Linked DNA regions of Homo sapiens. The protein of the gene in region 1 interacts with the protein of each later gene in a pairwise test. Each region holds a gene or a part of one and is shown on either strand. Other genes may lie near its edges. The genes, in order: MLC1 and ATXN10.

Region 1 (15,439 bases):
GGAGTTTGAGACCAGCCTGGCCAACATAGTGAAACCCCATCTCTACTAAAAATACAAAAAAAATTAGCTGGGCGTGGTGGCGGGTGCCTGTAGTCCCAGCTACTCAGGAGGCTGAGGCAGGAGAATTGCTTGAACCCAGGAGGTGGAGGTTGCAGTGAGCAGAGACGGCGCCATTGCACTCCAGCCTGTGTGACAGAGCAAGACTCCGTCAAAGAAAGAAAGAAAGAAAAAAAGAAAGAAAGAAAGAGGAAGGAAGGAGCAAAGGAAGTAGCAAGACTCTGCATGTGAGGGAGGCAGAAAGGAGTCCCACAGCCTTCTTGTCCTCAGCCTTCTTGTCCCCACAGGGCCACACCAAGGCTAGGAGTCCAGGGCCAGGGAGGGAGGTTGGGACGTCAGGGACAGGGAGGTGGATGGAGTCGGGCCAGCCCAGGCCTGTGGCCCTTGCCGTGCAGGGCCTTGCTCCTGCAGCCATGGGACCCCGGGCCCTGAGTCGGGGGTGCAGGCCCTGAGGGGCTGAGCACAGCAGTGCTGGGTGAGGAGGCAGAAGAAGCCCCGTCGGGGCCTGAGCGAGGGGCAGAGCTAGGGCCAGGACAGCCAGGCTCAGCTCAGCACCCACTCAGGTGCCACGAGGGCCCAGGGTAGAGAAGAAAGGCCGGGGGCAGGGCCGAGTGGGGCCAAGGCTGGGCGGGGGTGGGCACTTGCCCATATCCGGCAGCCGCTGAGGCTGAAGGGGCACAGCTCACAGCTCCACTGGGACAAGGGCGGCTCCCATGGTGAGGATAAAGGCCACGGAGAAGCTTCCAGAGAGGGCAGCAGAGTGGGACGGGTCACCTGCCCCAAAGGGCTTTGTTCTAAGGGAGCAGAGACCCAGGACAGCACGGGGCGGGGCATCCACTTTGTTTTTAAGACATTTCGGGGGCGCTGCTGGGGACAGTCACCAACAGTGTCCCTAGAGAAAGGGCAGGGGCCAGAGACCCAGCAGGCATGTGGAAGCGAGAGGAGGGGAGAGCTCGGGACCAGCTGAAGCAGGAGGGGCGTGGGGTCCGCGGCTTGCGGGCCAGAGGGGCATGGGGTCCGCGGCTTGCGGGCCAGAGGGGCATGGGGTGCGCGGCTTGCGGGCCAGAGGGGCATGGGGTCCATGGCTTGCGGGCCAGAGCCCAGGGGTCAGCCAGCATGGTGCTCTAGCTGCCGGGACGCTGGGGAGGCAGTGGCCGGGGTTCACAGAGGACCAGGGGACAGCGGTTGTCTGTCCTCCCTTGCTCTGAGGATCAGTGGGTGCCTCCACCGGCCTTGGCACTGTGTAAGTTTCTAAAAACACAACATGAAGCTTTGGGAGGATGTGGGGCACAGGTCCCAGTCCCCTGAGGGCAGATGCTGCCAGCTCTGGCAGGACGCAGCCGCAGGCTCAGAATCAACACGCAATTCCCTGCACAGGCGTCTGCAGAGCAAGGTTCAGGCCTGCTTCATCAGTAATTCTCAAAGGTGATGAACTCTACGTGAAACTAAAGTCATATGAAGAGTTTTTTGTTTTTTTCTTGTTGTTGTTGTTTTGAGACGAAGTTTCACTCTCATTGCCCAGGCTGGAGTGCAGTGGCACAATCTGGGCTCACTGCAACCTCCGCCTCCCAGGTTCAAGCGATTCTCCTGCCTCAGCCTCCTGAGTAGCTGGGAGTACAGGCACCCACCACCGCGCCCAGCTAATTTTTGTATTTTTAGTAGAGATGGGGTTTGTCCATGTTGGTCAGACTGGTCTCAAACACCTGACCTCAGGTGATCCACCCACCTCCACCCCTCAAAGTGCTGGCATGACAGCCATGAGCCACTGTGCCCGGCCCATATGAAGAGGTTTGAATGAGGTACAGGTGACAGAAACCTGCACATCTCAGAACAAAGAAACCAGAGCACGTGCCGGCGAGCTTGGGCACTGGCAGAGGCGTGGAGGAAGCTGCTTACAGAGCCTGCAGCACAGCGCAAGTAATCCATCTCAGCCGGGAACACGTTCCCCAGGTACAGCGAAAACCCCGAGGTCACCAGGAGGCAGCTCTGCAAGACAGCGACAGAATCCCAGGTTACAACGCGCCCCGTCCCCAGGCTGGACCCTGACCCTTCAACTTCTGCTTCACTGTCTGTGTATTGGTGACTCACCCACGTCCCCCAGCATCAACCACACCCGCACCTGGGACCCGCCCATCCTGGACTCCTCCTGTAGGACAGACGCAGCCCCGCCGCAGCCCAGGACATGGACCAGCCTCCCCCAGCCATGTCGGAGCATGGACCCCCCACGCTGTTATCTGGAGGAGAGAAGAAAGGGGATCTGCCAATATTTAGAGCAAGGAATGGCACCTCTCCCCACAAAATACTCCTGCCCCAACATGTTGTGCGTGCAGTCTTCCAGATCCCACACCCAGGTCCAGACACGAGACTGGAAAACAACTGCCCATCCCCCTCCGTCTGCAGAACCTAATTTCCAGATCTGGAAGAAGATCCCTCCAGGCAGGGGCTCCAGGCCCAGGGGCTCCTGAGCAGGGAAGACCCTAGCAGGAGGCAGGGAGGGTGCTCTCTCTCACGCACAGCACTGCAGGGGTGCGGTGGGGAGGGGGCTCTCTCTCACGCACAGCACCCCCGGGGTGAGTCTGAGGGGAGTCAGTATCAAAGGTCACTGGGACCCAGGGTCCTGGCAGAGGAAGCGAGGTCTGGGGCAGAGGGGATCTGGCCTGGGCGGGGGAGGGGCTGCGACCAAGTCCAGGGCACCAGGTGGAGGAGGGCAGAGCCCGGAGATGGCCACCACCACCCGGGAGCCGCCTCTGTCCCCAGCTCCGAGGCAGACGCCTGTCTTGGTGGGGCATGCTCAGGCCACGGGAGGTGGGCAGGACCACTGTGGGTGCTGCAGGGGCTGCCGGCGGAGGCCAGGGCACAGGGAGGGGAGAAATCACAGCCTGGATCTCATTCTCAGCCCAAGCTACACGGAACCGGGGGTCCCTGCATAGAGGCCTGTCCTGCAGCATGGCTCTGAGCAGCTGCACACACTCAGGCCCAAGTGGCTCCTCCAATCATCTCTGTGCCCACGACTGTGCAGGGAATGGCCAGGACCCCAGGGAAATCCCTCGGACATCTGGCGCTGCCCGTCCACCCCAGACCTGTTCCTTTGTTCCCCAGCTCCCTCCCAGCCGGCCCCTGAGGCCCTCCCTAGGAGGAGGAGGTCCCTGAGGTTCTCTCTGTGAGGGCCGACCTGAAGGCCTGAGACGCCTCCTCCCACCTTTGCAGGTGACCCCTCAGAGGACCCTGGGCCCCCAGAGCCGAGGGTCATGGAGACTCCTGGGGCCCATTCATGGCCCTGGGACTGTCCCTACCCTGGTGGGACTAAGCCACAACCTGGAGCAGCTCAAGGCTGGCACAACAGACACCCATAAATTAATAAAAATAATTGTGAAAACACAAGCAAAACAAGCTCGTCGGCATCCAAGAGTTCTGCAGCAGCAGGGTTAGTCTGAGAGTTGCTCTCTCTGTCCCACCTGGGGCTCCAGGGCGCTGCAGTCCGTCACCAGAGGGACCAGATGCTCGTGGCCCTCCAAGGGCTTAGTGTGGAGCTACTCACCCCCATCAGCACAGAGAAGACCCACGTCTTGTGGCTGAAGCAGGGGGGCAGTCTCTTCGACAGCTGCAGGTCGCTCGGCTTCGCGTCTGGGGCATAGCTGGCGGGGTCTTGCCGGCCCCGCTCCAGCGTGGGCATCCGGTCATAGGCCAGCTCCTCTCTGAATGGCTCCTGGGTCATGGCACTTGGGGACACCACAGCTGTGCTGAATGTACAGCCACGTGTCACCAGTTCTTTATCTGGAATAAAATTATCATCGGCTTTGGCCACTCTGAGGAAACTTCAATAAGTTGTTTCCAAGAAATATTTTTTAACAAAAGAAATATTGTTCATACTGAAGTGCTCTAAATTTGAAGAAGAAAATGAGCACTTGAATCTAAAAGTGAAAAAGAAATAACTTTCCTAGAAAAACGGACCTGAATAGTCTGGGTTCAGGGTGAGATTCTACACTTTAAATGCCTCATTGATCCATCTGGGCCCTCCAGGTGCAACACCTGACAACATCCATCGGCAACTTCGTCCATGAACACATCACGCCGGGGACTCAAGCACGTTAAACTGCTCCAATTGGTAGCTAAACGAGAGATTGCAAAACATGCCTCTACTCAACGGCTTAATGTCTGAGCACTTACCTCCCCCGCTGCTCTGCCGTTGGGAGCACTGGTCTCTGGGTGAGGGACTTCCAGCAAGAAGTATTCACAAATGAAACAAAAGCTCAGCAAACTTGAGCTGAAGGCAGGGGAAGGAGAGCTGCTTCCTGAATATCAATGAGGGGAGGAATCGGGTGGATCGTAGAAATGTTTCGTGTTGGTTGTGTAAACCACTGCCTCGGAGCTGTCAGAACCCAACTAGGAAAGGAAGGGGCCCTGCCTGTGCCACTCGCCACAGAGCTCGGGTCTCTCAGAAGAAAGAAGCGTCCCTAAGAATAGAATCCCACCAAGTACACATTCTGAGCAGGCTCTGTTTCTGAAACGTAACTGTTTACTCGAAGGTCTTCTACATCTTTCCAAGTAGCCTTTTTCCATCCCCCACAGCCACACGGTGGGAACCTCCTTCACACGGTCACATAAGCATTCACGCACTCGGCTTAGCTGTGTGGCCTTGGGCGGCTCCGGATTCGGCCCTGTGGTTTGCGTGGGCAGCCCGGATGGCTGGTGGGCCCGGTCCTGCTGCCCCCTTTATCTCTGCTCACCAAGCAGAGAAAAACCACAGTAATGTGTGTCGCCCAGAGACACTGGCACCCTGACAACTACAGCAACGGGTTCTTTGTGCACATTGTAAAAAGGCTCAAACTAAAGTTTCTGAAAAACCAGCTCCTTAAACCATGAACCCACATTAAAACTTGAGCAAAGTCATCAGGTTCCAGACCATGGGATGTTCTGTTGTCTTCGTTTCAATCAAGCAAGAAGCTTTTAGTAAGCTTTTATTAGCTTTTAGTAAGTTTTTATTAGCTTTTAGTAAGATTACACATACAAGCATCCCTGTCCCAGTGAAAATGCCCACTAAATCACCTCGATCAAAATGCGTAAGTGTCAAGTACGCATAAATGCAGCTCAAAACACTTTGCTCAACCTCACCCCCACAGGAAACAGCAGTGATAAATTTTTAGCAATAAACGAAAGTTTAAGCTATACTAGTATTTTAGGGTTAGTTAATTTTGTGCCAGCCACCACAGCCAATGTTCTGTTGTCTTCATTTCAATCAAGCAAGGATGAGAAATAATTTTCAAAAACTATAATCTGTGAAGTCAAGAACTCATTTTAATGGATTGAGAAACCTCCCAAACTTCACTATCTTTTAAAGCGATAAACGGGATTAGTGGGAGTGGGTCCAACTGGATCGAATCCTCCTGTGTTTCTTTTTGTTTGGAAAAAAATGTTAATCGGATTTCAACATTTTTTTCTTTCAAAAGTTGCTCTCCACTTAGAAATACAAACAAGCTGCCCTGAACCAGAGGTTGCAGAGCAAATCCCTCAGCTTCCCAGATCATAAGTCATCACTTGAGAAATGCTCCCAAGTTTCTGTTGGCAACACTAGTTTCTAGAACAGGCCCTGTTCTTTCATACAATCTTCCAACAAATTCTTGCTCCTAAAATGCCCTTCATCCCTCTGCCTGCTGATGTCCCATCATCATTCAACATTCAACAAACATTTATGGGGTGGACAAAGAAGTGACGTCCTTCCTATAGGCTGTTTACATTCATTGGGGGCACAGGAGTGCACAGGATAAACAAATTAGTGTGTTATACAGTGATATGGTTTGGCTGTGTCCCCACTCAAATCTCATCTTGAATTGTAATTCCCATAATTCCTACATGTCGTGGAAGGGGCCCGGTGGGAGGTAATTGAATCATGGGGGTGGTTACCCCCATGCTGCTGTTCTCCTGACAATGAGTGAGGTCTTATGAGATCTGATGGTCTTTTATAAGGGGCTTTCCCCGCTTTTGCTCAAGACTTCTCCTTCCTGCCACCTTGTGAAGAAGGACATGTTTGCTTCCCCTTCCACCATGATTGTAAGTTTCCTGAGGCCTCCTCAGCCCTGTGGAACTGTGAGTCAATTAAAGCTCTTTCCTTTATAAGGACTTGACTCTAAAATTACCCAGTCTTGGGTATGTCCTTATAGCAGCGTGAGAACAGACTAATGCATCCAGTGACACACATGATTTCCTCTATGAGGGAAAAGAAGTCAGGGGAGAGAAATGAGGGGCTGCTGTTTGCAGGGGCCAGGGCAGGCCTCAGTGAGAAGGAGGCAGGGAGGGGAGGCTGGCAGAGTTGAAGCAAAGGCCACAGGTTGGGGAAGGCAGGCGAGGACCATGCAAGGGGGATACAGGTAGGACAGCCAGGTGCCAGCACCTGTGGGTATGGAGACGACTCTGCTTCAACTCTGAGACAGACCTGCTGGAGGGGTCTGGGCAGAGCAGCATCCGGTCACTCACTGGGTGGAGAGCAGGCTGGGGGGTGGGAGGAGCAGGTGCTGCCTGGCATTGAGGTGGCAGTGGGCAAGTGGTGAGGAGGGACTGGGCTCTGAACAGGGTTTGAAGAGCGGACGCAATCTGCTGTCAGGGCGACGTTGCTGAGTTCTGTCTGAGCAGTGAGGACAGAGATGAGAAGACCAGGGTGGAGCAGGTGTGGAGCGAGGATCTGGAGTTCCATTCTGGACATGATGAGGCCGAGATGTCTGTGGGCATCTGCCGGGTCTACTGAGTCCAGAATCCCAGGGAGTGGCCCGAGCTGGGGAGCTGAGGGGCAGCCCTGCAGGCACAGCACCCGCTGCGAGCTGCCCTGGCAGGGAGCCCATGAGCCACCAGCCCTCATGCAGCTCGCTCTTGTTTCCAAGCTAATCTCCCACCAACCAGTAGGTCCCTGGGACCCTGCTGGCTCCTGTATGTGTTCCAGCACCCAGCCCAAGACACAGGCTTAGCGGGGATTTGAAATGCTAGGGAGTGCGCCACTCTCTCCCTTCCCACAGCAAGAACTATCAGTACACTCTGCATCCATGGACAGGCAAGGTCCAGGCTGTCATCAGACTGACAGATCTGACCTAGGAAAATAAAGCTATGTCAATCAAAAATAAGTCGGGGCTGGGCGCAGTGGCTCACACCTGTAATCCCAGCACTCGGGAGGCCAAGGCGGGTGGATCACCTGCGGGTCAGAAGTTCGAGACCAGCCTGACCAACATGGTAAAACCTTGTCGCTACTAAAAATACAAAAAAAAAAAAAAAAAAAAAAAAAAAAAAAAGCCAGCGTGGTGGCGCACGCCTGTAATCCCAGCTGCTCTGGAGGCTGAGGCAGGAGAATCACTTGAACCCGGGAGGTGGAGGCTACAGTGAGCTAAGATCATGCCACTGCATTCCAGCCTGGGCGACGGAGCAGGACTCCATCTCAAAAAAAAAAAAAAAGAAATAATAAAAAACAGAAACCACTGGAATAGTAAAGATATATATACGTATTTTGTTTTTGTTTTTGTTTTGAGGCAGAGTCTTGCTCTGTCTCCCAGGCTGGAGTGTAGTGGTGTGATCTCAGCTCACTGCAACCTCCACCTCCTGGGTTCAAGTGATTCTTCTGCTTCAGCCTCCCAAGTAGTTGGGATTACAGGCATGCGCCACCATGCCTGGCTAATTTTTTTTGTATTTTTTTGTAGAGACAGGATTTTGGCAGGTTGACCAGGCTGGTCTCGAACTCCTGACCTCAAGTGATCTGCTCACCTTGGCCTCGCAAAGTGTAAAGATATTTTTAAAATAGAGAAAAATCAATGAAATCAAGGGATGATTTTTTTTAAAAACTCAATAAAATTGATAAATATAGACTGATCAAGGAAAATGAGAGGGATGAGATAAATTACCTATGTCAAGAATGAAAGATGGCTCATCATTATGGACCATACAGACGTTAAAAGGATAATAAGGAAATATGCTGAACAACTTTATGCCAATAATCTGACATCTAATAATTGGATGAAATGGACAAATTCCTTAAAAGAATTACCAAAGTTTATTCAATATTACCTTGATAACTTGAATAGCCCTCTAGCTGATGCAGAAGTGAATTTCTCATTAAAAACCTTCCCACAAAGAAATCTCGAAGCCCAAATGGGTTCCCCAGCGAATACTACCACAATTTTTAGGGAATAAGTTACCCCATCCTACTCCCAGGTCACTGCAGGCCCGGCTTAAACCGACCCCAAACCAGACAGACACAGAAAACGGGAGGTCGGCCACAGAGCAATCTGCTTCACCAGCACCGTCCCCAACCTTGGACAAAGCGTTACCAAGCTGAGTCAGGCAATACACCAAAAGGATAACGAATCGTGACCAAGTGAGTTTTCCAAGGAGAGCCAAACAATGTAATTCCCTATGGGCTGAAATAAAAAGCTACAGGATCATTTGAATACATGCAGAAAAGCGTTGCAGAAAATTTCACACCCACTCATAAGAACTCTTGGAAAAACAGGAATAGAGGGAACTTCCTCAACTTGATAAAAAACACCAACAAAAAACGACTCCTAACATCACTCTGGGTGGTGAAAGCGCACTTTTCCCTAATGTGTGGGCGGCAAGAAGGCGGACCCGCTCGAAGCTCCGCCCACCCACGCGAGGCCCCGCCCGCCCGCTCGAAGCCCCGCCCACCCGGCGGTCACACCGCCTTGCGCGCTCGGCATGACGTCACTCCCACCAGGCACCTCGCCTTGTCAGGAGCTGCCAGGCGCCAACCGCCGACCTCTGACCGCTACGGGTCCCGGCTCGCGCAACGACCCCAAGGCGCATGCCCAGGCGCGGCGACCCCATTGGTGGCGGGCGGCGGGAGCGGCGCGGGCGCGTGCGGGCGGCGGCAGCGGCGGTGACGGCAGCCTAGGCCGGGCGAGGGCCATGCTGAGCCTCGCAGCCAAGCTGGTGGCCTTCTTCTGGAGGACGGCGGACACCCCTAGGGAGGAAGCCGGGCAGCTGGAGCCCGAGCTCGCGGAAGGTGGCTCGCGGGAGGCGGCTGGGAGGCGGGTCCCGGGCCCTCGCGTGTCGGCCACGAGGGAGCCGCGCCCATAGGTCTTTGAGTGCAGTGCGGGCCGGCAGGCAACGCTGGGCCCGGCCTTTCCTCATCTCCGCTGGCGGGGATCCCCGTTCGCCTCAGGAGGCTTCCGACCCCACAGCATCCCGCCGCTCTGGGCGCCCGTCCTCTGTGAGGTCTCTCCGGTGACACCAGCCCCTCTTCCCGCCCTCACTTTGTGTGTTTACGCCGAGCAGCTGCCAAGTCGTCTCTCCATGTCGTTCCTCCCTGTCCGCAGCGTCATTGGCGGTGGTGTGTCTAGAAAGCCCCGAAAAACGCGGCCCCGCAGACTTGGCCTGTCCTTTCAGAACGCGCTGCGCCAAGGCGTGCCATTTCCTTGTCTGGTTTTCAAGCCCATCTTTCTAAAGCCCGGGATGCGCCCGGATGCCCTCACCGTTCCTTTCTCCTGAGGTGTTTGTGTGTGTGTGTGTGTGAGACGGAGTTTCGCTCTTGTTGCCCAGGCTGGAGTGCAGTGGCGCAATCTCGGCTCACCGCAACCTCCGCCTTCTGGGTTCAAGTGATTCTCCTGCCTCAGCCTCCCGAGCAGCGGGGATTATAGGCACCCGCCACCACGCCCGGCTAATTTTTGTATTTTTAGTCGAGGGGGGGTTCGCCATGTTGGTCAGGCTGGTCTCGAACTCCTGATCTCAGGTGACCCACCCACCTTGGCCTCCCAAAGTGCTGGGATTACAGGCTTGAGCCACCACGCCCGACCTCTCCCGAGGTTCTGATGGCTTCTCCCGATGTTTCCTTATGTGGGAATGGAATCCACAGTAGTGGGTCCCTAATTGCCTTCTGTGAGAAAAGACAGGAACAGGCTTCAGGAGGGGAGCTTCCTGCTGCAGGCAGCGTGTTCAGGGCCTCTGGATCCACGAGGGCCGATGCCCGGGGGGCCGGCTGTGTTACCTGGAGCACTTGCTCCGTGGATCTCTTCGGTAGAACACGCGCTCAGCGGTAGCTGGAGCTCCAGCTCTTGGCAGCGCTCAGATCCTATGCCTGTACTGTAACCGTCGCCCCAGGTTCCTCCCGTGGCTGGGAAGCTGCAGTAAAGGCACGTTCAGGACTCAGGACCGTGGCTGCAGCAGTGGCCAGACGGCTGAGGGCGTGCGCTGCTCCTGGGCCAGACTTGTCTGCCCAGCCCCGAACCTTTTCCAGCACCGTGTTTGTTGAGATTCTCCAGTCTTCCGAGGCTGCTGCTGATGGTAATAAAAAGATAATCGATAGTACTAATAAAACCGTGCATGCTAATGACTCCCAGATGCTGATATAAGTGGCCATTTACATAGCACTTAACGCGTGTCAGCCACGCAGAGGTCCATACATGCACGTGTGTTCTGCCACTTAACCCTTCAGCAGCTCTCTTGGGTAGTGACGATTAGTCTCCATCTTACAGATGGCAACAGGCCCAGAGTAGTTAAGGACCTAGTCCAGGGTTACACCAATGGCAGTAGAAGAGCTAGGAGTCAACCCCATGCAGTCTGTTGTGGAGTCAGGGCTGTCACCTCCACAACCACTACCTGTGCCCTTCTGAGGAAACTGGGCTGTCTGCCTCCAAACCCCACGTTCCAGACACAGCACTCTCTGATGGGATTCTCTCTGTCTCAAGTCAGCCCGTTCGGAGTCAGTGCCTCCGAACTGCAAAAAAAGGAGGCTTTTGCACTCTGCCTTTCTCTGGTGGGGTTCACTGTAGCGTACGCTTGCTTTTATGGCCAAGATAACTTCTTTGTTTACCTACCTCAGGTGACACTAAGCTGAAAACTGTACGGGGTGTCGTGACAAGGTACTGCAGCGATTATGGCATGATTGATGATATGATCTACTTCTCCAGTGATGCTGTGACTAGCAGAGTGCTTCTGAATGTTGGACAGGAAGTGATTGCAGTTGTGGAAGAAAATAAAGTGTCCAATGGACTGAAAGCAATCAGGGTAAGGTTTGAGTTCATTTGGGAACAGTTTTTCTTCGCCACGGGACTTTGTGTTGTTTTTCCTTGTGTTTAATCTATCAGACATGACCCGGCCAAGGGAGAAAGAGTGGAATGTACCTTCAAGGGGATGCTTTTGCTCTTTATGATTTATGTTTTAAAAAATAGACTGGGTACAGTGGCTCACGCCTGTAATCCCAGCACTTTGGAAGGCTGAGACAGGCAGATCACTTGAGCTCAGGTGTTAAGAGACCAGCCTGGGCAGCATGGTGAAACCTCGTGTCTACAAAAAAAAAACCCACAAAAGTTAGCCTGGTGTCGTGGCACATACCTGTAGTCCCAGCTACATGGGAGGCTGAGGCGGGAGGATCGCTTGAGCCCAGAGGGTCAAGGCTGCAATGAGTTATGATTGCACTACCACACTCCAGCCTGGATGACAGAGCAAGACCCTGTCTCAATAAATAAACAAACAGCAGTCTTTGTAAATCATTCAAACAACATAGACATGTATACTTTAGAAAGTAAAGTTTGCCTATGAATTTATGCTGTGGAGAACATAGCAATTATATATCCATTATTTTCTTGCTTTTTCAACAATTTAATGGTTATCACCAAAGTAACATCAATAATATACAAATTTATACTCTTAGGAGCAGAATGAGAGACTGCACTTAATTTGCACTTAAGCCTTAAGTATGGTAACTTTTCTTTTTCTTTTTGTTTTTGTTTTTGTTTTTTTCTGAGACGGAGTCTCTGTCGCCCAGGCTGGAGTGCAGTGACGCAATCTCAGCTCACTGCAAGCTCCGCCTCCTGGGTTCACGCCATTCTCCTGCCTCAGCCTCCTGAGTAGCTGGGACTACAGGCACCCACCACCACACCCAGTTAATTTTTTTGTATTTTTAGTAGAGACGGGGTTTCACCGTGTTAGCCAGGATGGTCTGGAGCTCCTGACCTCGTGATCTGCCCACCTCAGCCTCCCAAAGTGCTAGGATTACAGGTGTGAGCCACCGCGCCCGGCCTCATGTTTTTTCTATGAATTATTTTTGGGTCCTTTGTCCACATTTTTGTTGAGTTCAGCTTTTTCTTTTGTTAAAGCTTATATATTAGGGAAATCAGAGCTTTTTAAGGAAAATTATTATATGAAAGTGTTAGGAATATTTTCCCCAGGATCATCTTTGACTGTGTTTTATAGTTTCATTTTTTGTAGTTAAGTGTGCCTCTTTTCCATGTAGCTTTTGGATGCTGTAAGAAGCCTTAGGGAGGCTTATTCCACTTCTTATTCCTAATATTCAAATTTTACTCTGAAAATTGTTTATTGACAATTAGAATTTTTTTTTCAATTTTTGAGACAGAGCTTTGCGCTGTCGCCCAGGCTGGAGTATAGTAGTGCGATTATAGTTCACTGCAGCCTGGAACTCCTGAGCTCAAGCGATTCTTCCACCTCAGCCTCCTGAGTAACTGGGACCACAGGTGTACACCATCATACCTGACTAATTTTTAAAATTTTTTTGTAGAAATGGCGTCTCACTGTGTTGCGTAGGCTGATCTGAAACTCCTGGCCTCGAGTGGTCCTTCCACCTCGGCCTCCCAAAGTGTTGGGATTACAGGCATGAGCCACCATGCCTGGCCTGTTTGTTGATATTTAAATATTTGACCTGCCTGGAATTTATTTGGGTGCACAGACTGAGAGAAGGAACCAGACATTGCTTTCCTAATGGCTAGCCAGTCATCTGAGTAGCTCACTTTTTCCCTGCTGATTTGGAAAATTCCTTAATCATGTATCAGAATCCCACCTGCATGTGATGTGGTCCTGATGCTTGTAAGGGGGCCCCATGGCATGGTTGCTGTGATAGGTGGTGAGCAGGTTTCCCTTCTTTGCTCTTATTAGCATATGGTATTTTTCTGGCTCTTCACATGTTCTGGATGAGTTTGGAATCTTGTTTCTCCCCCTCTGCCCAGATTTGCTTTGGATGGCACTGAGTTTATGCATTTCATTTAGAATAATTGATATTTGGGTCATATGGAGTCTTTTCCATATGTCTGTCCATTTATTTAAGCCTTCCTTTGTATTCTTTTTATAGTTCAATAGTTTTCTTCTTTTAGGTCCTGTAAATTTCTTACTAAATTTATTTTCAGGAGTTTTTATGTGTTCTATTAACATCATTTTCCATCGTATTTTCAAATTAATCTTTTTCTTCCTGTATGGGAAAGCTTTCAATTTTTTTTTTTTTTTTTTGAGACGGAGTCTCGCTCTGTCACCCAGGCTGGAGTGCAGTGGCATGATCTTGGCTCACTGCAAGCTCCATCTTCTGGGTTCACACCATTCTCCTGCCTCAGCCTCCAGAGTAGCTGGGACTACAGGCGCCTGCCACCACGCCCAGCTAATTTTTTGTATTTTTAGTAGAGATGGGGTTTCACTGTGTTAGCCAGGATGGTCTCGATCTCCTGACCTCGTGATCCGCCACCTCGGCCTCCCAAAGTGCCGGGATTACAGGCATGAGCCACCATGCCCAGCGATTTTTAAATGTAATTTGGAATCTGGCAAACGTATTGAGCTATTAACTACTTTTTAAAAATACTTGAGATGTACTTTATTATACTATTATAGTTAGTACCATCTAATGCTTAGTATCATCTTTCTCAAATTAAAAAAAAAGCATACCCAATAAAATAATTCAAAGTCTAGAATTCCATCATTCAATATGGTAGCCACCACTCATGTGCAGCAGTTTCGATTTATTAAAACTAAATGCAACTTACAGCCAGGCGCGGTGGCATAAACCTGGAGTCCCAGCACTCGGGAGGCTGAGGCGGGAGTTCGAGACCAGCCTGGGCACATAGAGACCCTGTCTCTTAAAAATAAATAAATAAAAGTGTTTCCTCAGTTTCCCTGGCCACATTTCAAGTGCTAACTGAAGCCTAGTGACTACCAAATTGGGCAGCACACATAGAGAACATTTCTGTCAGCTCTGGCTTAGAGACTGTGAATGCAAAGTAGAAGAGCCTCCCTCCACGTTCCCCACCTGCACTTTCATGCTGCAGACCTGATGCTCTTCTGGGTTTCTGTTTCTACCTTATCTGGTAGATAGTTGAGTCACTTAAACAATATGCTTGTATCTTTTATTAATTCACCAATGTTAGTATTTATGGACTTCCATCATCAGAGATGTACAACTGGCTCATTCACACTACCCTCTTTTCCTCTCCCAATTATTTAATTATATTTTTTCCTCCAAAGATTTCCTTTTGAACTTGAAATTATACGATAGTCCTCATGTTTTTGTGTGTATTTAAAGGAGTACTCTGGGTTCAGAATCTTTGAAAGAGGATCTGGAACCCAGAACCTGTAGAGATGATGTTTACCTCATTCTCTGAGCTGTGGTCGTGTACTCACACGCGGCCTTCCAAAGCAGGTTCTCATACCAAATTCCCGTTGATTTTAAGATACACCATTAATTTGATAATGAAAATTTAAAATGGAAACGTAGGTTGTGAGACTCATTCTGATCTCAGAAATGTGACAATGTGGAAAAACTGGCCCCTGGGTGTCCAGCAAATCCCAGCCCTCTTGGTGGTCAGCTGCCCTTCACTTGTTCCATCTTGTAAGGAATGCAGGACCTTTTTTGTTATGGTGAAGAGGGTTCATCTCTACTCACAATCTTGCTTTTATAAATTAGTAATGGATTTTTCAAGTACTTTTCAGTATCTTCCAAATGATCCCATAGTTTCTGTCCCTTTGCTATTAATATGGTGGAAAATACAGTTTCTGTGTTGTGAGCCGTTCTCACTTGATGGGAATGATCCCCATTTGGTATAAACCTGAATGTACTTCTGGATTTATTTTTTATTTAGATATTTTTCTTGTGGTAAAATATGCGTAATATACCATTTTAACCATATTGAAATGTACGGTTCAGTGGCATTAAGCACGTTCACATTGTTGCGCAGCCATCACCACAATCTGTCTTCAGCACTTTTTCAGCATCCCAGTAGACACTCTGTACCCATTAAACAGTTATTCAGTGTTCTACTTTATGTCTCTATGAATTTGCCCATTCTAAATACCTCATATAAGCGGAATCATGTGTCTGGCTATTTGACTTCTGTTTTCAAGATTTGCCCATGTAGCATGTATCAAAAGTTAATTCCTTTTTTATGGCTGAATATTCCATTGTGTGAATAAATCACATTTTGTTTCTCCATTCATCTGTTGATGGACACTTGGGTTGTTTCTACTTTTTGGTTGTTGTGAATTGTGCTGCCATGAACAAGTCTGTCTGAGTCCTTGTTCAGTTCTTTTGGGGCTACGCCTAGGAAGAGAATTGCTGGGCTGTATGGTAAGTCTAGGTTTAACTTTGTGAGGAACCAGATGTTTTCCACAGCAGCTG
Region 2 (16,062 bases), 4.4 Mb from region 1:
TGGCTCATGCCTGTAATCCCAGCACTTTGGGAGGCCAAGGCAGGCGGATCACCTGAGGTCGGGAGTTCAAGACCAACCTGACCAACGTGGAGAAACCCCGTCTCTATTAAAAATACAAAATTAGCCAGGTGTGGTGGCGTATGCCTGTAATTCCAACTACTCGGGAAGCTGAGGCAGGTGAATCGCTTGAACCCGGGAGGCGAAGGTTGCAGTGAGCCAAGATCACACCACTGCACTCCAACCTGGGCAACAAGAGTGAAACTGTCTCAAAAAAAAAAAAACAAATTAAAAAATATGGCTAATGCAACTAAGGAAATGAAACATTAATTTTACTTATTTTCAATTAATTAAGTAGCTACATGTAGCTAGTGGCTACTTAATGAACAGCACAGATGGAGTATGACAACCCATCTCACCTGGCTCTACACTTTGTGGGGTCTGGAGATGCCTCATGGATGCATCATAAAGGCAACTAGCCAGGTACGGTGGCTCATGCCTGTAATCCCAACACTTTGGGAGGCCGAGGCAGGAGGATCACTTGAGGCCAGGAGTTCGAGACCAGCCTGGGCAACATAGTGAGACCCCCTTCTCTAGAAAAAATGCACTCCAACCTGGATGACAAAGTGAGGCCCTGTCTCGGAAAAAAAAAAGAAAAATAATTAAAGGAGCAACTAAAATAGAATTTTAAATGTTTGTCTTACTTGTTCAGAAAGAATTTAACATGACTTGCAAAGACTCACAGCAAGATAAATCACTTGTTAAACAAATGTGAAATACGGTGATATCTACATTAAACAAAAAGTATAAAACAAATGTGAGAAAAAAGAATTATCTTACACAGAGAAGAAACAGCTGAGGAATATCTCAATACTGATATTATATGACCATAAGCAATATGTTTAAATTATTTTAGTGACCAAGACACTGTTTAAGAAGTGGGTTACAGAATGCATTTAATACACAGCATGGAGAATTAAGACTGGTGTATTAATGATGTATTGCTACATAGCAAATTAGCCCAAAATTTAGCATTTTAAAACAATAACATTTATGATCTCACACAGATCTGAGAGGCTTAGGGTGTCTCATGAGGTTGCACACGTGGCTGAGGATGTGACTGGAGCTCAGAGGACCTGCTTCCAAGGTAGTTCATCACATGGCTGTTCAAAGGAGGCCTCAGCTCCTCACCACACAGCTCTCTGCATATGGATGCTTGAGTGTCCTCATGACATGGCAGCTGGCTTTGTCAGAGTGGGTGATTCAAGAAAGAGCTAGCAAAGAGGAAACTACGATGCTTTTTATGACCTAGTCTGAGAAGTCGCACACTGTCACTTCTACCATATTCTACTCTTCAGGAGCAAGTCACTAAGTTCAGCCCACACTCAAGGAGAAAAGAATTAACCTCCTCCTCTTGAGAAGGTCAGAGTATCAAAGAATTTGTGGACATATTTAAAATTCCCACAATGGGATGTAAGAATTTCTTTTCACTTGGGGGCTGCTAAAATTGTAATGAGATCCTGAGATCCCCTTCTCCGGAAACCCCAAAATTAGAACTGTCTTCCTGAAATAGCTGCAATTTTTGTTTCTGATAAGACAGGAGATTCAACACAAATGGATTCTTGGTCACTTACAACCTTGTTATATTTTAATAACAGGTCCTAAATAAATGGCATTTACTATGCATAAACCACTATGCTACACATATAATATTACAGATCCTCAAAATAATCTGTCAAAGTGGCTACCATCATCCCGTTTTCAAGGAAAGAAACAAGAAGCCTCACAAACTAAACCAGGATTCACATCCAGGTCTCCATGGTTCCAAAGCCACTGCTCTTCCCACTGCATGACACTTCTATTACTCAAGCTACCACTGACAGAAGTTTGTTTTGTAGCATGGAAGAGCTCAGAAGGACCACCAACTACATTATGTCTATGATTCTTCAAATATAAAATGGAATCCTAGAGAAATAATGTATTCCACCAAAAGAGAAGAATCTCTTAATTACTTTCCTCACTGTTTTTGCTTTTTGTCTGCTGTTTTCTATTTGCTACACTGAGGACTCATTTTGCCTGGCTTTTTGTCTCGTCCACCTTCTAACACCTTGGCCCATCCTCCCCCTGGATCCATCTGTGTTCCTGTTCATACTAGACAACAGCCCTATGTCCTCTCTGAAGAGGAGACCCCCAAGGACAAACACTGGCTCCCTGAGCATCAGAACTGGAGGGATCCTCTCAGAGGAGCAGGAGTCTGGGCCCAGCCCCACAAGACCCTTATAATTTGTCCAAAGACAAAGAGAAGCAGTGACAGAACCAGGACCAGAAGCCTGTCCTTATAAACCCTGATCATGAGTTCTCTGCACCACCACACAACTGTGTCTTTCCATGCCAGGACCTGCACATCAGTTCACCTTTCCTGGTCTCCAATCTCTGCCTGGAACAAGGACACTGTCCCAGAACTCAGATGAAATCTGGGAAGCATCCTCATTTCCTCATTCTCCCCCCCACAATCCAACTGGTCCGAGTCCTGTCCATTCAACCTTGTATCTCTCAGTATTTATTCTACTCATCCCCACAATGTCCTAATTTAGGCACTTTTCTCTTTCACATGGGCTTCCGCTACCACTCCTTAAAGGTCCCCCCTGTCTCTAGCTTCGTCCTCTCATTTATTCCCCACAATGGAGGCGGAGGCGGCCAGGAAGATCTAACAGGCAGATCTTATCGCGCCACTCCCTTGACAAAAACCATCAATGGTTCTCTGTAACTTCTTCCCTCACAAGAGATAGAGTCAAGAAGGGCCTTCTAAACTGGCTCAGGGGCTTGGATTTTCTCCAAGTTATAAAAAGGGAACTGATGTCTGACTAAATGTCTCTTCTGTACGAGAAACCTTATCTATGTTACTTAATTGTCTCATCGGTTTTGCAAAATTAACATATGGCCCCTTTGCAGACACTGTTCCCTCTAGTCCTCTCATCTATAACCGAGCACCTGAAATAACCTTAAAAAGCCTCTCCTGGCTCGCCAATCTTCCAACATATCCACATGCTCCCCTGTGCCACCACCTCTTGTATAGATTTCCATTACAATGTGTTTATTTAGCTATTTCCCAAATATGCCTGATAAAAGGGATCACTCACATCATTCCTCTCTGTACCCTCAGACCCCAACAAAAAAATCTGTTTCATAGTAGGTGCTCAATAAATGGTTGATGACTGGGTTATTAACTAAAAGGAGGGTCCATCATGATACAGAAATGCCTAAGCATTAAATCAATAAATACATCTCCCCCAAAGGCCCATAGAGCAGTACCAGGGACTTTTATTAATAGCATTCCTTCAGCAGCTCCACATTTCCCAAAGTGATGTGAGGTAAAGGAAGTGCTCAGACCAGGTGTCTAGTTTAAAGAGAGGAAGTCCTCTAGTGATCACCTAGGCTGACCCAAGTCTCAGTATTTCTTTCTTCAATGTTCCCTCTGCTTTGTACATACATACCCCCACAGCTGTGTTATCTTGTACATACTAGTACAGGAGAGAGCAAGGACTTTCCATTTTCCTACCCCATCACCTAGCACAATAGCTGATACATGGGTAACTACCAATCAATGTGTTAAGTGATAATATCAGCTACATTTAGTGCTATGTACAGGTATGTCCTAAGGATTTAATATGCATTATATCTCATTTACTCCTTATGACACTATCACCAGGGAGGTACTGTTCAACTTTACTCCCATTAAATAGACAAGAAAACTGAGGCCCAGAGGACAGAACAAGATCAAACAAGCATTGACTGAGGGCTTCGCACATTTTATATTTTCACGTACTTTATTTCATTTATTCCTCTGTACAATCCAGCAACTAAGCTGTGTATTATAGTCCCATTTTTAGACAAGAATTCTAAGGCCTGGAGAAACTGCACAGTAACACGCAGCTTGCAAGGCCAGGAACCAAATCCACAACTGTCGACTCCTGGGCACCTTCTCTTTTTGCCTGGCTATCTTGCCCCTCAGTGGCATCAGGACTGGACTGGTCTCTCCAGGCCCGTGCTCTTCCACACTGCACAGAGCGCTGCCCCCAGGGCAGATGGTGCAGCCTGGGCTCTAACGCCGAGGAGAAAGGAGTGCCAGTCCCACTCCATGCCTAGAGACTGCCATCCCCGCAACTGCCCAATTCCCGCGTCCGTAACACGGGTCTCTCCCGCTAAAACACACGCTTTATGACTCTGGGGGCCGCGTGGGTCTTGCAGCCAGGGCCTGGCGCAGCCCTCGCACATGACAGGGGAGGCCTAACCGTGTGTTGGGTCAACATCACCGGCACGCCGCGGCAAGGGCTCCCGGGATCGCGGCTTCGCACCCGGACTGGCTGCGGTGGGGGAGCGGGGCGCCCGCCCCAGGCCCCGCGGGGACCCACGAGCACGAGGCGGTGCCTGGGAGTCGGGAGGCCTGGGTGGCGCTCAGGCAGCCCGCGCAGGCCTCGCCCTCCGCGTCTCCAGCGAGGCGGGGGCGGCGCCTGGGTCCAGGCCGGGGCCGCCGCGGGAGTCCCGGCCGCCCTCCCCTGCCCGGGGCAGCCCCCCGGCCGGACCCGTTACCGGTTCCGCTGCTCTTTGAAGAGCGCCGTGAGCGCGCGCAGGGCCTCCAGGTCTTGGATGGGCGCCGGCACCATGACGCCCGACAGCCTGGCAGGCGGCGGCCTGGGCGCCGCCATCTTGCCGCTCACAGCTGGGTCGAGCCTGACGAGGAGGAGGAAGGCGAGGAGGACGAAGGGGGAGGATGACGAGGAGGGAGGAGTAGGATGGCGAGGAGGAAGGGGGAGGCCTCGCCCTACACAGCCCTAACCGCCGCCGCCGCTGCAGCCCGCGCTGCCCTGAAGCTGCGCCGCCGCCGGAGAGCTCTAGGCTGAGCCCAGACTCGCCTCAGGCGGGAGGAGGAGACGGCGCCGCGGGGGAGGGGGCGCCGGCGGAAGTCCCGCCTGAGGGGAGGGGGCGCGGCGGAAGTTCTGGGTGAGAGCGGGGAGGGATGCTGGGGGTGATTGACTGGGAAGCGTCGCAGACGGGGCTCCTCCGAGGGGAGGGGACGCCGGGGGGAGGGGGACCTGTGTTGATGTGGCCGTAACAGGGTCTCGGTCTTGGGAGCGGGTATCGGGAACCAGAGGTTCACCCTGAGAAAGAGGGGCGCGTCCTATAGGAGGGTGCCCGCGGACAGAGGGGTCTCCCCCAGGGGAGGGGATCCGGGGGGTAAGGGGCCTGTGGAGGGTGGGGCCGTAACAAGGTCTCGGTCTTGGGAGCGGGTATCGGGGACAGAGGTTCACCTTGAGGAAGAGGGGCCCTCCTGTGGGAGGGGGCCCGCAGACAGAGTGGTCTCCCCCAGGGGAGGACATTCTGGGTGGAGGGGACCCTCTTGGGAGGAGACGCTGACTGAGGGTCTCGGGAACGAAGGGGGCCGGGCAGAGGCTCCCACTGCTAAGGCTGAAGACCTTGATCCCACTGCTCAAGTGGGTTGATCAGTGCCCCCGCCCGGGTCCACTGGAAGCTGGAGCGGTCTGTCACTAGCTTGCAAGTCTCAGGCCCTGAAAACGCACTTCCCAGTACTTACTGATCATTGCTGATCAATACCAGACCACTTACCAGGCACTTTGCCTCTAGTGAGTATACATTGCTCCAGCTCCTCAAAGCCTTAAAATACCGTTCGAAGTCAAGAAGCTAAGTTACACAGCAATAGGGTTAGAATTGTTTTTTTTCCTAAGGGAAATGAATATATTTCACAGGAATCAGACAAGGCTTCTCTAGCTGGTGTTGATAACTCACATATTTTCTTTCCACTGCCCTTTATTACAGTGTATATACTTTCAACAAAAATTGTTGCTAAGCCCTGCGCTAGGTGCTGGAGATGTAAAGATTAATAAAAGACAGTTCCAAACCTGAAGGAACCTCACAGACTATTGAGAAGGAGAGAAGCAAACATAACTGAGTATAGTTGTGAACTGCTATAACTGTACAAATTGCTGTGGGACCACTTAAAATATATAAATACATACCCTTTACATTCTGCTTGGAGGGTAGGAGTGTGCTTATAACATGGCGCTTTTAACATTCTTTGCTAAATAAAATGTAAAGATAACAATAAACACCACCAGAGTATGCAGAAAAAGTGAATCCTGGTGGGGCATGGTGGCTCATGCCTGTAATCCCAGCACTTTGGGTGGCCAAGGCAGGAGGATTACTTGAGCCCAGGAGGTCGAGGCTGCAGTGAGCTGTGATCACACCACTGCACTCCAGCCTGGGTGGCAGAATGATACCCTGTATCAAAAAAAAAAAAAAAAAAAAAAAAAAAGGAGGGAGGGAAATGAATGCTGCTGCACAAGCAAGTTACTTGATATTGTCATTCAGTTTACCCATTTAATTGAGTATGTATTTATTCATTCCACGAATATTGCGGTGTACTATGTGCCAGGTATTAGATCACTTATTAGTAGCAGTGCTCAAGACAATGCAAAATGTTTAACACTCCTTAAGCTAACAGGGCAAAAATCTCTTAATTTTCCCTTGAGGAGCACAGGATAGTAAAATGTACTTGTTATGCACCAAAATCCTGATCTTTAGGCCAGACACGGTGGCTCATGCCTGTAATCCCAGCACTTTGGGAGGCCGAGGCGGGCAGATCACTTGAGGTCAGGAGTTCAAGATCAGTCTGGCCAACATGGCAAAACCCCCTTTCTACTAAAAATTAGCCAGGCATGGTGGCGGGTGCCTGTAGTCCCAGCCATTTGGGAGGCTGAGACAAGGGAATTGCTTGAACCTGGAAGGCACACGTTGCACTGAGCTGAGATCATACCACTGCATTCCAGCCTGGGCAACAGAGGGAGACTCTGTCTCAAACAAACAAACAAAAAAACCTGGCCTTTAGTTTTCTTATTCTCAAATGTAACATTCCCAGAAAAACATTCCCTATAATATTCATACTTCTTGCCTGGAATATTGTAATATATTCCTGATTGGTCTTTTGGCCTCTGCTCTTGCTTCCTTACGTTTTAGATCGTTTAAAAAATATTTCAACATTTAACTCTGCCCAAAACCCTCTAAGGGATTTCCATTTCACTCAGAGTAAAAGCCAAGTTCTTCCAATAGAAAAGCCCCTAAATGACCTGCCTCCTCCTTCGCCATCACCTCCAGCCCCTGTGGGCTCTAATCACATCTACTAGCCTCTTCCTCTTCCATTGTGCTTCAGCCATACTGACCTCCTTATTGTCCTCTGTCTATTTAAAAGGAATAAGCTGAGGTAAAATCAATATAAAGAGTTTATTTGGGCCAACGTGAGCATTGCAGTCCAGGACACACATCCAAGTTGCCTTGGGGAGTGCTCTGGAGAACGAAAGAGAAGCTCAACTTTTTAAAGAAAAAAGGACGAATCAGGAGAGAGGGTGATTTAAAAGGTTGTTTGTCATGAATTCTCATTGGTTTAAGAAATAATGTTGGTTAATGATTGGCTGTACAATGTTGAACTATAGATTGTATGCCATTGTGTAGCTAGTTGACATCAGTTCGTCTAGAGGCCAAATAGAATGTGGCTTCAAGAGGTAATTAGGCCAGGCATGGTGGCTCATGCCTGTAGTCTCAGTGCTTTGGGTGGCTGAGGCAGGAGGATTGCTTGAGCCCAGGAGTCTGAGACCAGCCTGCACAACATAGTGTGAGACCCCCCATCTCTACGAAAAAATTTTTAAAAAATTAGGCATGGTGGTACATGGCAATAGTCCCAGCTACTCCAGAGGCTGAAATGGGAGGATTCATTGAGCCTAGGAGTTGAAGGCCTCAGTGAGCTATTACCACACCACTGCAGTCCAGCCTGGGTAATAGAGAGAGACCCTGTCTTTAAAAAATAGTAATAATTCCTTTTGAAAAGAGGTAAGTATTCAGCTCAAGGAGGAGAGACATGATTGGTGTTTCATTCCAATGCTTCTCTAGGCCCGATCATTTAAAGGAGATCATATTCCTCAGATAAAGTTTTGTTTTTCCTTTTTTTTTTTTAAATCCCATAACTCCACCAGGAAAAGAACTCTCCTGCCTTAGGAGTTTGTATATGCTGGTGTTTTTGTTTTTGTTTTTGTATAGAACAACTCCTCACAAACATCTCCATGACTTGCTTCCTTATTTCCTTCAACTACCTGTTCAAATGATCTTTTAACAACCTTCCTGATCAATCTATTTAAAATTGTAACAGGCTACCCAAATTCCTGATCCCCAGGAATTTTCCGCATAGCACTTAATACTTGATATATAACTTACTTTTCTATTTTGTTTATTGTTGCTTATCTATTTCACTTACTACTAGAATGTAAGCTCTACAAGGGTAGAGATTTTTGTCTCTTTTGGTTATTTTTGTATCTCCAGCCCAGCACCTAGAAAAAGACCTACTATGTGGTAATTGCTCAATAAAAGTTGAATTAATGAACAAAGAATCTTTTTAACTATATCAGCAGAGGCCGGACGCGGTGGCTCATGCCTGCTTACGGTTGTAATCCCAGCACTTTGGGAGGCGGAGGCAGGCAGATCGCCTGAGGTCAGCAGTTTGAGACCAGCCTGGCCAACATGGTGAAACCCCCATCTCTACTAAAAATACAGAAAAAAATTAGCCAGGCATGGTGGCAGGCACCTGTAATCCCAGCTACTCAGGACGCTGAGGCAGGAGAATCACTTGAGCCTGGGAGGCAGAGGTTGCAGTGAGCTGAGAGCACGCCATTACACTCCAGCCTGGGTGACAGAGCAAGACTCCATCTCTAAATAAATAAATAAATAAATATACATATATATATATATATATATATATATCTGCAGAAAGGAGAAAGGAGATAGCATGCCTCTAGAAGAAGTGCAATAATCCAAAAAGTACAGAAAAGGAGGCTGATGGAAAAAGAAGAAAAATTATAAGGGAAAAGATTAAAACAGAGAGATTAACAGGACAGACAAAAAGTAGAAATACGCATAAGAGAAACGAAAGGAAATTAAACTGGTCAAACAGTGGATGTTATTGACTGCCCAAAATCGACTAGAGGATTTCAACCTTGACTGAATTGACAGAACCAAGTTAATATTTCACTAGGGCTAAATGACATTGTTAATGTTATATAGCTGTTTGACTTAGACAAACCAGATGAACATGCCACCATGTTGATGTACGTGAATTCGACTTCAAATGAAATTTGTGATATAAATTTGTACCTTGAGCCCACTGCAGAAGAATTGAATCAGCAATGACTCAGTAATCAAGAAGGAAGTAAATACAAAGAAAAGAAAAGGAAGGAAGGCAAAAAAGAAAATCAGAGAAGAAAGTAGATGAGGTGCAAGGCAAAAACAGATTTGGACCAAAGTGCATATGATTTTGGCAAGGAAAAGAAAGAGGAAGTAAGTGAATACTGGTAAAGAGAATAGAAGATGAGGCCGGGTGCGGTGGCTCACACCTGTAATCCCAGCACTTTCGGAGGCCAGGGCGGGTGGATCATGAGGTCAGGAGATCGAGACCATCCTGGCTAACAAGGTGAAACCCGTCTTTACTAAAAATACAAAAAATTAGCCAGGCATGGTGGTGGGCACCTGTAGTCCCAGCTACTCGGGAGGCTGAGGCAGGAGAACGGTGTGTACCTGGGAGGCGGAGCTTGCAGTGAGCTGAGATCACACCACTGCACTCCAGCCTGGACAACAGAGCGAGACTCTGTCTCAAAAAAAAAAAAAAAAAAAGAGAGACTGAGTAGAAGATAAGTGACAAGTGGATAGAAAAATGTGTGCTTCTGCTGGCTTTTCTGTTGGAAACATCCTTCTTAGCATCTCTGCCTACGATGCTCTTGCTAGAAAGCTTTTGTCATATATCACCAACTCCACAAGATCTCATGTGTTCTTCAGAAGAATCTCTGGTCAGCCTGTGCCTCTCTTTTGGCACTGACTTTCCATAGTCAGCCTGTGCTATAGATGTGTGTTTATGCCCTCCTCTTCCACATCTGAGGTCCCTCAAGGCAGGGATTTTCTCATCTTCATCCCAGCCCTGTGCTTAGAAGCAATGCTATCAATATCTGTTGAATGGAAAACTCTGGAGATTGAGAAAAAGGAGAAAAAAATAACAGAGTAGTGTACTTGTTCAGAGCAGGGATTGGCACACTATCACCTATGAGCCAAACTCTTCCCGCCACCTATTTTCGTAAATAAAATTGTGTTAGAAACTGTCATAGTCATTCATTTACATATTCTCTGTGGCTATTTTGGCACTAAAGTGGCAGAATTGACTTGTTGCTACAGAGACTGTATGGCCTCCAAAGCCTAAAATATTAACTATATGGTTCTTTTTAGAAAAGGTTTGCCAACTTCTGGTAAAGAACATGAGCTCTGGAGTCAGACAGACCTGGGTGATGTGAATCCCTCTTTTATCTCTTAGCACCTGAACTTGGACAAGTAACCATCTCTTTAAGCCTTTTTTTTTTCATTTGTAAAATGGAATAGTAATAGCACCTATTTAATTAAATTGTTGGGAAGATTTGATGATAGTCAATTCAGAGTCTGTCATATATTTAGCTTAGTTCAATACGTGTTAACAGCGAACTGTGTGGTGTAAAAGTGAGAAAGTAGAAAGAACGAAGTGGGCAAGGAGATCAAAAGCTGTTAGGTAGTTGGGCAAATGAGAAACAGTAGGAAACACGTAGGAAATCGTGAGTACGGTCAAGATATAATTGGTAATAAGTGACTGACAATAGACTACCGGTATTTGAGGTGATGATTCTGATGTTAGTAATAGTTGCCTTGTGGGGATCAATTATTTTTATGTAATTTGTAAAGTTATTAAGCTATTCCTTATGATTGTTACCAATCCATTTTACATTTTATTTTTCATATTTCAATTTAACCAGAAGATTTGAGCATCTATCATGGACTATATTAGAACCTAGTCTTATGAAGATGAATAATATAATACCTTAGTCATGAATAACCTCTGAGTCTATTAAAGGAAAACAGAAATATATACTGATAAGATAGCATAATAAATCATGTCAGAAAAAAGATGTATAAAGAGCTAAGAAGCTGGAGAGATGAAGAAATACAACTAGAGAAACCATGTAAGCTGAATCTTAAATAATTGTATGAGCACTAGACAAACAAAGGTGGAAATACATTCCAGAAAATGAAGCACCAAAATATAGCCTCAAACCAGCTGACTTTATATATGGTTCTACCAAACATGGAGAAAAGATGTAATCCCTGCCTTATACAAGAAGCTTCATAAAACAGAAAAAGCTTCACTTCTGGTAATGTCACGCCAAGTTATTTAAAGCTATCCTCTGAATGAGAAAAACTTTTATTTTAAACCCAAATGAAATATTTCAAAAACCTCTTTGTCACCTGGTTGATCCAAGGAACCAAAACACCTGAATTGGGATTAAGACAGACCCAGAATGGTGGCACATTTAGACACATGACAGAAGCAAATGAAAACCATCTTTGGAAGAATGTGCCATCCTAAGCATCAAATTATTTCTACAAATACTTCTCAAATAGAGTGAACAACACAAAAATAACTCACTCTACAGGGAAACCAGAAATTATAAGAACCAGCAGAAGCAACATACAACAGAAACTGATCCACAAAAACTTAAGCTATTGGAATGGAACATGGCAATGACACAACAGGTTTACTATGTTCAAAGAAATAATTCGGCCAGGCGCAGTGGCTCACGCCTGTAATCCCAGCACTTTGGGAGGCTGAGGTGGGCAGATCATGAGGTCAGGAATTTGAGACCAGCCTGGCCAACATGGTGAAACCCCGTCCCTACTAAAAATACAAAAAATTAGCCGGGCGCGGTGGCATGCACCTGTAATCCCAGCTACTTGGGAGGCTGAGGCAGGAGAATTACTTGAACCCAGGAGGCAGAGGTTGCAGTGAGCCGAGACCACGCCACTGCACTCTAGCCTGGGCAACAGAGTGAGACTCCATCTCAAAAAAGAAAAAAGAAATAGTTCAAAAGTCCAAGCAAGGTATTGAACTATAAAAAGTGAAATAGTGTATTTATATAATAAATAAATAGAAATTCTGGAACTGAAATTAGAAATAACACAGTAACAACTCAATTGATGGGATTAAAACAGGTTAGAGAGACCTAAAGAGAGAATAAATGAACTGGAAGATTTAGAAAGAAACTATCCAGAATGAAGAAATTAAAATACAAAAAATACAGAAGAGCTAAGAGATGCAGAAAATAAGTTGAGAAAGTCTAACACATGTAATTGTAACAGAGGCAATACCTAGGAGAATAGCTGAGAATCTGCCAAAACTGATGAAAGATTCCAAACCACAGATTCAAGAAGCTCAATGAATAGAAAGCAGAATACACGAAAAGACATCTAAATATAAACACACCATATATTCACATCTAGTGAAGTTATGCAAAAAGACAAAGACAAAATCTGATAAGAAGCCACAGGGGAATAAAAAGACAGTTTATTTTTAAAGGAGTGAGGATTCAGTAAGCTGTATCCTCCACAGAAACACTGGAAACCAAAATAGTGGAATGCTATCTTGGATGTGCTGAAAAATAAAAATAACTGCCAACAGATCCATGGTAAAGGAAATACAAAAGAGTGTGAATTAGAGACAAAAACAATCCCAGATGGAAGATGAGAGACACAGAAAGGAATAAAGAAGACTGAGAATGGTATTTACCATCCGCTTCATCTAAATGAACATCCAAAGTACAAAACAATCATAAAGCAACAATGTCTCATAGGGTTTAAAATAAAAAATTAAAATATTCATGACATGGCTCTGCTCCAAACCATCATAACACTACCTGGGACTTTTGCCTTCTGCTGTCCCAACTAGTGACCCCAGGACTCTCAAAAGACCACCTCTGTAGGAACAGGCCCAGGTTTATCTCCTGCCTAAGGACTTCCTCTGCCTTATACTTCCCAGCAGCCAAGATCACAGAAAGTCAAAGGCCAGCAAAGAAAGAAAATCCATTGACAGGAAAGAAGGGAAATCCATTGAGAACAGTCTGTAAAAGCCAGAACGGTTTTTTGTGAAATGAGCTTTGTCAAGTCAATCAGTACCAAACAATATTTGGATATTATTGGCACTTTGTGCTCCCTCTGCCTGAACTGGGAATTCCTCTATTAGTTTTGACATTATCTGGTATTGAACCTCACTTATAAACATCTGGTAGAAAACTATGGAAGAGAAACTTGCAAATGCCATTCTGAATGGGGCCATCATTGAGACAGTGGTTTAGGCCAGGACTATTCAAAGTGCTCTGCGGACCAATTCATGACAAACTTCCACTTCTGGGTAAGATGGACGAAGACCCTACTTGGTGACCCCCACACTTATGTACCCCATAGTAAATAATCATAAAACCTAGATATACTACAAAAAACAACCACCTGAAGGGCTTGAGAGTGAACAGACGCAGACTCTGATGAGGAGTACCTCCTCACTTGGAGGAAGGGAGATGGGGAGCTATACAAGTAGGTTCACATCTCTGTAGCTTTTAGCCTGGGACTAATTGTAGCACGTGGATGTGCACAGCAATGGTTGGGGGCACATGTGCAAAACTCTGCATTCTTTCTGGCCTGGGGAAACATAAAAGTAAATGTATGAAAATTGAACACTGAAGAGAATGGGAAAAATCCCAAAAGGGAAAGAGCCAGAGAGGGTGCTATGCTTTGAATGTTTCTCCTGTCCAAAACTCATGTTGAGATTTTAATCCCCAATGTGGCAGTATTGACAGGTAGGGCCTTTAAGGAGTGACTGGTTCATGAGAGCTGTCCTCATGAATGGATTAATCTATTCATAGAATAATGGATTAATTGGTTATCTTGGGAGTGGGTCTGGTGGCTCTATAAGAAGAGGAAGAGAGACCTGAGCTAGTACCCTCAGCCCCCTCACTATGTGATGCCCTGCACTGCCTTGGGACTCTGGAGAGAGTCCCCTTCAGCAAGAAGCCTCTCGCCAAATGCAGCCCCTCAATTTTGGACTTTTCAGCCTCCATAACTGTAAGAAATAAATTTCTTTTCTTTATAAGTTACCCAGTTTCAGATATTCTGTTATAAGCAGCAGGAAATGGACCAAGATAGAGGGGATCCCCAAATTAATTATATCCGTATAGCTGACTGCCCACTTAATAAACCTTATCATGTGGTGTAGACCCAAAGCAGCTCAACTAAATACAAAAGATCTGACGCAAAACTGGAACTGCCCCTGAAGAAATAGAGTTTTCAGCCCAAGCCCACATAAGAAAATTGTCTATGAAAACAAAGGAAACAACACTCCACAGAGGAAAATAACAGAATCCAGAATCCCCACAGCTTACTATTAATAGTATCAAAATACAATCCAAAAGTTACCTGAAATACAAATATGAAATTAGAGAACATTCTCAAGAGAAAAGAAAATCAAATCTGTCCATGAGATGAACTAGATGTGAGAACTGACAGATTTTAAAGCAATGATTATAACTAAATTAAATGAGGTAAAACAAAACATGACTTCAGTGAATAAAAACCTCAAGAGAGAAAATGATCAATCTCAGCAGAGAAATAGAAATGATTAAAAAGGGCTGGACATGATGGCTCACGCCTGTAATCCCAACACTTTGGGAGGCCAAGGCGGGCAGATCACTTGAGGCCAGGAGTTCAATTATGAGCACCTGGCTGAAAAAATATATATTTTTTAAACAACAAAGAGAAAGAATATCAGGGACCTGTTAGAGGATATCAGATTTTCAAATATTAGTGTAATTGCAAGGCTAGAAGGACAGGAAAGAGAAAACAGGACCCCCCAAAAAAAAGTATGTGAAGAAATAATAGCCAAAATTTTCCAAATTTGGTGAAAGGTGGAATCTTGCAAATTTAAGATGCTAAACTAACATCAAACAAAATCAACATAAAGAAGCCTATGCTAAGACACATCACACCAGTGAAAGTCAAAGAAAGAGAGCAAACAAACATCTTGATAGCATCAACATAAAAATGACATATACAGAAAAACAATTATTGATTCATGACTGCTTCTTATCAGAAACCATGGAGTCCAGAAGATAGTGGAACATTTGTAACCTCCTGAAGGAAAAAAAAAAACTATCAATCAGGAATTCTACATCCAGAAAAAATATTATTCTAGAATAAAAACAATATTAAAGACATGTTCAGATAAAATAAAACTAAGAGATGGCCTCACCAACAGAACTGTACCACGAGAAATGCTAAAGGAACTTCTTCATGCTGAGGGAAATTATATCAGATGGAAACTCAAATCCTCAGAAAAGCTGACAAGTATTAGACATGGTAAATAGCTGGGTAAATACAAATAATTTTTCCCATTTGCATTTTTCCTCTCAATTGTTTTATAAACCATATAATGGTTCATAGCAAAAATTAAGCATATTCATGTGAGGTGTATAATGTATGTAGATGTATTACATGTAACAACAATAACAAAGAACAGAGGGGGATACTGACCTGTAAGTTCATTGTATATTACATTCCTTAGGGTAGCCATTAAAAAATGTAAGGAATTGTAGCTAAGAGGCTAATGGGAAAATCAAAATGTAATTCTGAAAAGCATTCAAGTGAGAAAATAAAAAAGAAAAGGAGGAACTGAAAGGGGGAATACAGAGAAGACAAACAGAAAACAAAGGCCAGGTGTGGTGGCTCATACCTGTAATCCCAGCACTTTGGGAGCCCAAGGCAAGAGGATCACTTGAGCTCAGGAGTTCAAGACCATCCTGGGCAACATTGTGAGACCCCATCTCTAAAAAAATTTTTTTAAAAACTTAGCCAGGTATGGTGGTGCAGGCCTTAGTCCCAGCTACTTGGGAGGCTGAAGTTGGGGGATCCCTTGCTTGGAGGGCAAGACTGCAGTAAGCTGTGATTGTGCCACTGCACTCCAGCCTGCATAACAGAGTGAGACCCTGTCTCTAAATAAATACATAAATATAAATAAAATGATAGACCCAGCCCAATCATATCAATAATTACAATAAAGTATAATGGAATAAACACTGATTAAATATTAGATATTATCAGCCAGGCGCAGTG

The links.
Region 2: the proteins of MLC1 (region 1) and ATXN10 interact in binary tests that used the Homo sapiens proteins (3 or more experiments, as listed by UniProt).

The regions. Positions count from the first base shown.
Region 1 is NC_000022.11:50,081,131-50,096,569, forward strand, and holds the start of MLC1 (membrane protein MLC1), read right to left. Parts: upstream 4,297-15,439; 5' UTR 4,225-4,296; exon of another isoform or gene 3,832-4,224; 5' UTR 3,773-3,831; coding exon 3,596-3,772; intron 2,044-3,595; coding exon 1,954-2,043; intron 1-1,953. Other genes in the region: RNA helicase Mov10l1, read left to right, coding at 8,959-9,055, 10,871-11,055. UniProt on the Homo sapiens protein: Transmembrane protein mainly expressed in brain astrocytes that may play a role in transport across the blood-brain and brain-cerebrospinal fluid barriers. Regulates the response of astrocytes to hypo-osmosis by promoting calcium influx.
Region 2 is NC_000022.11:45,660,705-45,676,766, reverse strand, and holds the start of ATXN10 (ataxin-10), read right to left. Parts: upstream 4,934-16,062; 5' UTR 4,704-4,933; coding exon 4,588-4,703; intron 1-4,587. UniProt on the Homo sapiens protein: May play a role in the regulation of cytokinesis. May play a role in signaling by stimulating protein glycosylation. Induces neuritogenesis by activating the Ras-MAP kinase pathway and is necessary for the survival of cerebellar neurons.